Linked DNA regions of Homo sapiens. The protein of the gene in region 1 purifies or fractionates together with the protein of each later gene. This does not show direct contact. Each region holds a gene or a part of one and is shown in the gene's direction. Other genes may lie near its edges.

Evidence for each region.
Region 2: the proteins of ZNF544 (region 1) and MAP3K20 purify together in Homo sapiens (affinity purification with mass spectrometry; 2 studies listed by BioGRID and IntAct, with this or other methods). This does not show direct contact.

The regions. Positions count from the first base shown.
Region 1 is NC_000019.10:58,245,741-58,249,560, forward strand, and holds part of ZNF544 (zinc finger protein 544), read left to right. Parts: intron 1-46; exon of another isoform or gene 47-129; intron 130-560; coding exon 561-687; intron 688-970; coding exon 971-1,054; coding exon of another isoform or gene 1,055-1,092; exon of another isoform or gene 1,093-1,301; intron 1,302-1,541; coding exon of another isoform or gene 1,542-1,687; exon of another isoform or gene 1,688-3,820. UniProt on the Homo sapiens protein: May be involved in transcriptional regulation.
Region 2 is NC_000002.12:173,082,034-173,085,853, forward strand, and holds part of MAP3K20 (mitogen-activated protein kinase kinase kinase 20), read left to right. Parts: intron 1-3,820. UniProt on the Homo sapiens protein: Stress-activated component of a protein kinase signal transduction cascade that promotes programmed cell death in response to various stress, such as ribosomal stress, osmotic shock and ionizing radiation.

The DNA.
Region 1 (3,820 bases):
TTTAGAGTGTCTTTCTTACCTCATTTCGAATCTGTGATTTTTGTAGAGAGGAAGTGGGTGAGGATCTCCTAGTGGAGTTCCTGTCATTTCCAGTCTAGAAATCAGGACCACTGCTGTGACTGGCAAGAGGTGAGATGCCCAGAAAAGGAATGGTACAGACCACATACATGGAGCTGTCCCAGTCCGTTTGGGTTGCTATAATAAGATACCTTAGAGTGAGCAATTTACAAACAACAGAATTGACTGCTCATAGTTCTGGAGGCTGGTAAGTCCAAGATCAATGTGTCAACAGAGTTGGTCTGGTTGGGGCCTGCTGTCTCATAGATGGCACCTCTTACATGTCCTCATATGGTAGAAGGTGAACACAGGCTCCCTCAAGCCTCTTTTATGAGGACATTAATTGCCTTGTAAAGACCCCACCTCTTAACACTATCTCACTGGGTATTAGGTTCCAATGTATGAATTTTACGGGGGGACACCAACATTTAGGCCTTAACAGGTACCTCCGTGAGGGCATGAGGACCTGGGGTCTCTGAGCAGTAACAAGTGCCCTGTTTCAGGCATCTGTGTGCTTCGAGGATGTGGCTATGGCATTCACACAGGAGGAGTGGGAACAGCTGGACCTGGCCCAGAGGACACTGTACCGAGAGGTGACACTGGAGACCTGGGAGCATATTGTCTCCCTGGGTAAGTGGCTGTGCTCATGGAAGGAGGTTCTACCCCTAGGACTCAAAGCTGTACCAAGTTCTGAAGGGTGTTCTGGGATGTGCTGGAAGATACTGGAAGCAGGTCCCTTTCAGGTGCAGTTCCCAGGGGTTGCCCTTCATTCTATCTCTGGGACAGGTTTGTGACTTGTAGTCCTAACAGTGGGGAGTTTCCTCGGGACAGCACTAGGGGCTGAAGCTTGGACCCAGGACATGGTTCTTGGTGTCCAAGCAGAGGGGCAAGTCCTTTTTCCGTCTTTGACCAGGGCTTTTCCTTTCCAAATCTGATGTGATCTCTCAGCTGGAGCAAGAAGAGGACCTGTGCAGGGCAGAGCAGGAGGCCCCCCGAGGTAAGAGCAGACCTTGTGGTGAGCAGCTCAACGTTTAACAAGCTTGGACAGAGAGCTCTCCGCAGGGCCCCAGGGGCCAAGGAGGGAGCCTTGTTTGGAGGAAGCCTCCTTGGGTGCTCTTTGCAGCAGTTCACCCATTCAAAGGAGTTCACCAATTCGAAGTATGCAGTTCATGGCTTCCAGTGTCTTCCCTGAGTGTGGAACCCTCACCACAATCAGTTCTAGAACATGTTCATCATCCCAACCATTTAGGCCTCTTTACTTGATTTGTTTTTTTTTAATTAATGTATGTATTTATTTATTTATTTTGAGATAGGGTTTTACTCTGTTGCCCAGGCTGAAGTGCAGTGGCGCTGTCTTGGCTCACTATAGCCCCCATCTCCCTGGCTCAAGCAATTCTCATGCGTCAGCCTCCCTAGTAGCTTGGACTACAGGTGCACACTGCCACACCTGGCTAATTCTTTTGTTTTTGTTTTTGTTTTTTAAGACGGAGTTTCGCTCTTGTTGCCCAGACTGGAGTGCAATGGCACAATCTCGGCTCACCACAACCTCCACCTCCCAGGTTCAAGTGATTCTCCTGCCTCAGCCTCCCAAGTAGCTGGGATTACAGGCATGTCCACCATGCCCGGCTAATTTTTTGTATTTTTAGTGGAGACAGAGTTTCACCGTGTTAGCCAGGATGGTCTTGATCTCCTGACCTCATGATCCGCCCGCCTCAGCCTCCCAAAGTGCTGAGATTACAGGTGTGAGCCATCACGCCTGGCCCTAATTTTGTATTTTTATTAGAGGTGGGGTTTCTCCATGTTGGTCAGGCTGGTCTCGAACTCCCGACCTCAGGTGATCCACCTGCCTCAGCCTCCCAAAGTGCCGGGATTACAGGTATGAGCCACTGCACCTGGCCATTAATTTTTGTATTTTTAATGGAGATAGGGTTTCATCATGTTGCCCAGGCTAATAGACTTTATTTTTTAGAGCAGTTTTAGGTTTATAGGTAAGTTGACGAGAAAGTGCAGAGTTCCCACCCATGTCTGCTGTCCTACAGACACATGCAGTGTCTCCTGCTGTTAACAACTTGGATTTGTATTGTACATCTGTTACAATCGGCAAACCTATCTTGAGGCATCCTTTTTTTTTTTCCCAGACAGAGTCTCACTCTGTCACCAGGCTGGCGTACAGTGGTGTGATCTCAGCTCACTGCAACCTCCGCCCCCCAGGTTCAAGTGATTTTCCTGCCTCAACCTCCCAACTAACTGGGACTACAGGCACGCACCACCACGCCCAGCTAATTTTTGTATTTTTAGTAGAGTCAGAGTTTCACCATGTTGGCCAGGATGGTCTCGATCTCCTGACCTCATGATGCGCCCCCCTCAGCCTCCCAAAGTGCTGGGATTACAGGCGTGAGCCACTACCCCTTGCCCTTGAGGCATCATTATCACCCAAAGTCCATAGTTTATGATAGGGTTCATGCTTTTTTTTTTCTTTTTTTTTTTTTTTTTTTGAGACAGTGATGCAGTCATAGCTTAAGCCTTCTGGGCTTAAGTGATCCTCCCACCTCTCTGCACCCCAGCCTCAGGTGCCACAGCATGCACCACCATGCCTGGCTAATGTAAAAATTTTTTGTAGAGATGGAGTGTCACTGTGTTGCCCAGGCTTGTCTTGAACTCCTGGGCTCAAGTGATCCTCCCACCTCAGCCTCCCAAAGTGCTGGGATTACATGTATGAGCCACTGCACCTGGCCAGGCTTCACTCCTGATGTTGTATATTCTGTGCATTTGGACAAATGTACAATGTCATGTATCCACCATTATAGTATCAGACAGAGTAGTTCCACTACCCTAAATATTCTCTGTGCTCTACCCATTCATCCCTCCCTCATCCCCAGCCCCTGGTGTTACTGGTGGAGGATGTGCAGGTTCTTGGCATTTTGAACAAAGAATTGGACAAAATGCATAAAACAATGAAAGAATGAAGCAAAAAAAGCATAGATTTATCAAAATGAAAGTACACTCCACACAATGGGAGTGGTCTGGAGCAAGCAGCTCAAGAGCACTGGTTACAGAATTTTCTGGGGTTTAAATCCCGAGAGGTTTCCCATTGGTTACTTGGTTTATATCCTCTGTAAATGAAGTAGTGGCCCATAACTAGTCTGATTGGTTGGGGAAGGTGACCAACAGAGGCTGAAGTGAAGTTACAAAGTTACACCTCTATGCAGATGAAAACTAGGCCAGTGACCAGTCTCATTGGTTGCAGGAAGAGGTACTTTCCATTTTTCATCTGCGACACAGAAGGCGGGGGTTGCCTCTGATCCTTTTGTTATTTGGGGCATGGAAAGTTTGGGTTTTCCTTTTGATTCAGTTCCAGGAAGTCAGCATTAATCACCCTTAGGTTTCTTGCCTCCATACCCTGTTCTCATACCTCATTTCCCCCCGAAAGACATGATCCTCATAAATCTTTATGGGAGGTAAAGGGATTGATAGTCTTTCTTCTGTAACTGCTTTATGCTGACCTGAGGCACAGTCCCTACGTACTGGGGAATCACAGGACTCTCTCCCCGCCCTGTCTAGTGGAGACAGGATAGCTTCTTGATGGCCAGGGGTGGTGTCTCCACCTGGAACTGGCTGGAAACATTGTCACATGATCATCTGAAGCTTGATGGTCTCTAGGTGACAGGAAATGAATTTGGTTAAGAGTTTAACAAACATGGTCCAAAAACCAAGGCAAGTATAGTCATTACTAATGGGCTGGCCAGAGGAAGGAGCCATGAAC
Region 2 (3,820 bases), on another chromosome or scaffold:
GGAGACAGGGTCTCACTTTGTGCAGTGGCATAATCATAGCTTATGGCAACCTTGAACTCTTGGGCCCAAGCTATCCTCCCACCTCAGTCTCTTGAGTAGCAGGGACTACAGGCATGAACCACCACACCTGGCTAATTTTTATTTATTCATTTTTTGTACAGATGGGATCTCACTATGCTGCCCAAGTTGGTCTTAAATGCCTGACCTCAAGCGATACTCCCACTTTGGCCTCCCAAAGAACCAGAAATTCTTTCTGTAACTTTCATCCACAGATAGCCTTGCCTCTTGATCATCAAAACATAATATAAGGTCTTAGTCTTCCCTAGTTTTACCATCCCCATTCCTTTCACCCTTCATCTTACATTGAGGTTACCATGTTTTAACTCTTGCATTCACCCTTCTCAGGGAGTATTCATTCCAGGCACTCAGTCCAAAGTTGTACCTGTCTGTCAGCAGCCAGGATGGTCTGATACTTTCTATTTGACAGAAAACGATTTGGGGTACAAACAAGGGCTGAGTAGCAGCAAGACCTAGGGTGGGGGCAGGATAGGTGGGAGGTAGCGAACTGAAGTGAGCCTTGTTTACTCATAGGCTACGGCTTTCTCCTCATCCCCAGTCCTGACACCTGTGAATTCCTCTTCTGGCCAAGCCCTAGAAATCTCCCCTCTCCGTGCACCCTCACTTTATTCAACTCTGGCCCCATTCTCTTCCTCATGCTGCAAGAAGCTCCCAGCTACTCAACACAACAAGCCCACGCAGCGGCCTATGCCGTGGCCGTAGGTTGTATCCACTTCATGTTTCCTTGTTGGGCTTCTGTTTGAGCACAGACATGTTTCCACGCAGCATTTCTGTGGCGTTAAGTGCTCCCACCAACTACATTCCTGTGCCTCCCATCTTTTACTTCTGGTAACAATACTTTTGGTAAGGAAGTGTGTTGTGGAAGTTGACTTTTATTAAATTACTTTAATTATTTCAATAAGAATGCCTCACTACTAAATTACTTTAATATTTCAATAAGAATGTTTAGCTTATTTTTATTCTTACCATTGCTCTAACTAGAGAGTTACATTACTTTTATATGGTAAAGATAGAGGAAGGGGGAAAATATGAAACAATGGCTATTCTGTTTTTTGGATTCTTATTTAAAGTTGGGTTCTCTCAGATATCTATGCCTGAAGTCCTATTTACTGAACCCAACCTACTCTGTATAAGATACACTATTTTTCTAGGAGCAGCCTTGGAGGAAGAAAGGAAATATCTGGTAGATACAGTACAAGTTGGTTCTGTTCCTATACCTAGTCTTGCAACTTTTATTTTTTTATTTTTTATTTTTTTTTTTTGAGACAGAGTCTCACTGTCACCCAGGCTGGAGTGCAGTGGCGTAATCATAGCTCACTGCAGCCTCGACCTCCTGGGCTCAAGCGATCCTCCTGCCTCAGCCTTGCAGAGTGCTGGGATTACAGGTGTGAGCCACTGTACCCAGCCAGCTTTTATCTTTTTTAGTGATTAAAAAAAAATAGTAGAACAGCAGTCCTGTTGAGGAATAGAATCTTTGAATCTTTGACCTTGGTGTTACGGACAAATACACTGAACCAGAGCTTTCCTCATTTTTTTGAAGATAAGACTCAGGGGAAAAAAATTGCAGAACAGTGATTCCAAGTGGTGTTCTTTTTATACACATGATGACAAAGCACATATTATTAATTTATTCACTGATCTATGTTAAAGAGGCTGAAATAATACTAGCATAAATATCAAGGCAGCAAGTTTGGCAAAATAATTTGCTGAATATTGAAAGCTCTTTTCAAAAAGTATCTTTTTTGTCACATCCAGGTCATGATAAAACGTGTAAGTTTTTCTTCCTATATTGTATAAAAAGTAAACTGGCAACCTTACTTTTTGAAGAAGGGGGAAAGGAAAGTATGAATTAGGGACAGGAAAAGAGGAAGGCTCTAAATTCAGAAATATAGGCCCATATAAAACCACAAGATAGAAACATCCAGAGAAAGTTCAAAGACCTTTTTTCTAGTAAAGTTAATCCTTTCATAAAGTAGGTTTTTATTTTTACTTTTAGAAATGAGATCTCCCTATGTTGCCCCAGCTGAGCTCAAGTGATCCTCCAACCTCTGCTTCCCAAAATGCTGGGATTGCAGGTGTGAGCCACTGTGCCCGGCCAAAGTAGATTTAATTTTTTTTAAAAAATCATCACTTGCAGGTATTGGATAATCAGGTTAAGTTTTCTTGGGTTAGACGTGCAATTGACTGTGCAGCAGATAATGTCTGAAAGAAGACCGTGGTCACTGGGGAAGGAGGGGATGCTCCAGCACCCTACCAAAGTGAGTGCTATCATTGAATAAATAGATCTTAGCAATGCTAATGTCCAAAAAGTGCAAAAAAAAAAAAAGAAAAGTATTGTGTTTTAGCAATTTAAATACATTATGAAAAAAGCTTAAAAGAAATTATAATTACTTACTAATAAGATCTTTCAGAAATGACAAAAACCAAAAACGGCAGTTAAACAGAGGAATGAGAAAGAATTAGAAAATAGGCAAAGAGAGGGAAAGGATTCAGGGATCAATAGCACCTTTATTTGTTAATAATTGCTCTACAAAACTAAGAGATATAATATAAAACAATTCTGAAAATGGGGAGAGGAAAGCTATTGAGAGCATACCTGACCATAAAAACTGAAGGAATAGATGGCTAAATATGATATCAAGGGTTATTAAAATAATGAGAAAACCATAATTTCCATTAATTGCATGTATACCATATACTAGGCACTGTGCTCACGTATGCACTTTCACAGCACTGGTATTATTGCCAGTGAGAACAGTGAGGTCAGAGAGACACAGTGCCTTGCCCAAGTAGCTAATAACAGATCTGCTCATAGATCTCTCTAGTAGGGGTCTTTACCCTGAATCATGCTACTTCCCTGTTGAAATATCTCTTATTTGGAAGTGAGATGTATCAATGAAGTCAAATACTATGCAAACTTGATAACTTTGGGGCTATCAGTTTTGTGACATTGAATGGAAAAGATTTGAAATTTTTTATTTATGCATCTGGAAATGCCACAGTCTGAGAAAAAGTGATTTGTTAAAGTTACCGAGAGGTGGAGGGAGAGTTCAAACTCCTATCAATCTAATTCTAAAACCTTGCTTTTTAACATTAGAACTGTAGTGGGGTCATTTTTGTTTTTAATTTGGGGCAAAAGTAACAGTGAAAAGGTAAATGACTTATTTGAGGTCAACATGGATCTGAAAAATCAAGAAGCAAAATAGAAGGTCTGTGAATAGAGAAACTTAAGTCTATTTTTTTGGACTAGAAGATTGAAAACTTTAAAAAGTAAAATAATTCTTTAAGATTTCCTACCTTCTTATGTTTCCACTTTTCATAATTAGGTGATGCTGCTATATATGCTTTCAGCAATTTGGTTAATAGTTAAATGTTTTTGAATTTTAATTTAAGGAAAACTTTAAATTAAAAATTTTTTGACATTCTACTCAAGTAGTGAAATGATTGGATTCAACCACCAAATTATTGATTTTCAACATTTACAGAGTTGTGATGCCTTATTTTACTTTGATTTTTGTGACATTTCTGCTCTAACTTACCCTTCAGTATTGTATGGTAGATACTTAACATTTAAAACAGCTTTGAGAGTTTATAAAACAACAGTTAGAATCCTACAAAACTAAAACTGAGCATTGTTGCGTGGAGCAAAATTGCCTTTTTTGTGTAAAAGCAATTTTTTTTTTTTTTTTTTTTTTTTTTTTTGAGATAGAGCCTTGCTCTGTTGTCCAGGCTGGAGTGCAGT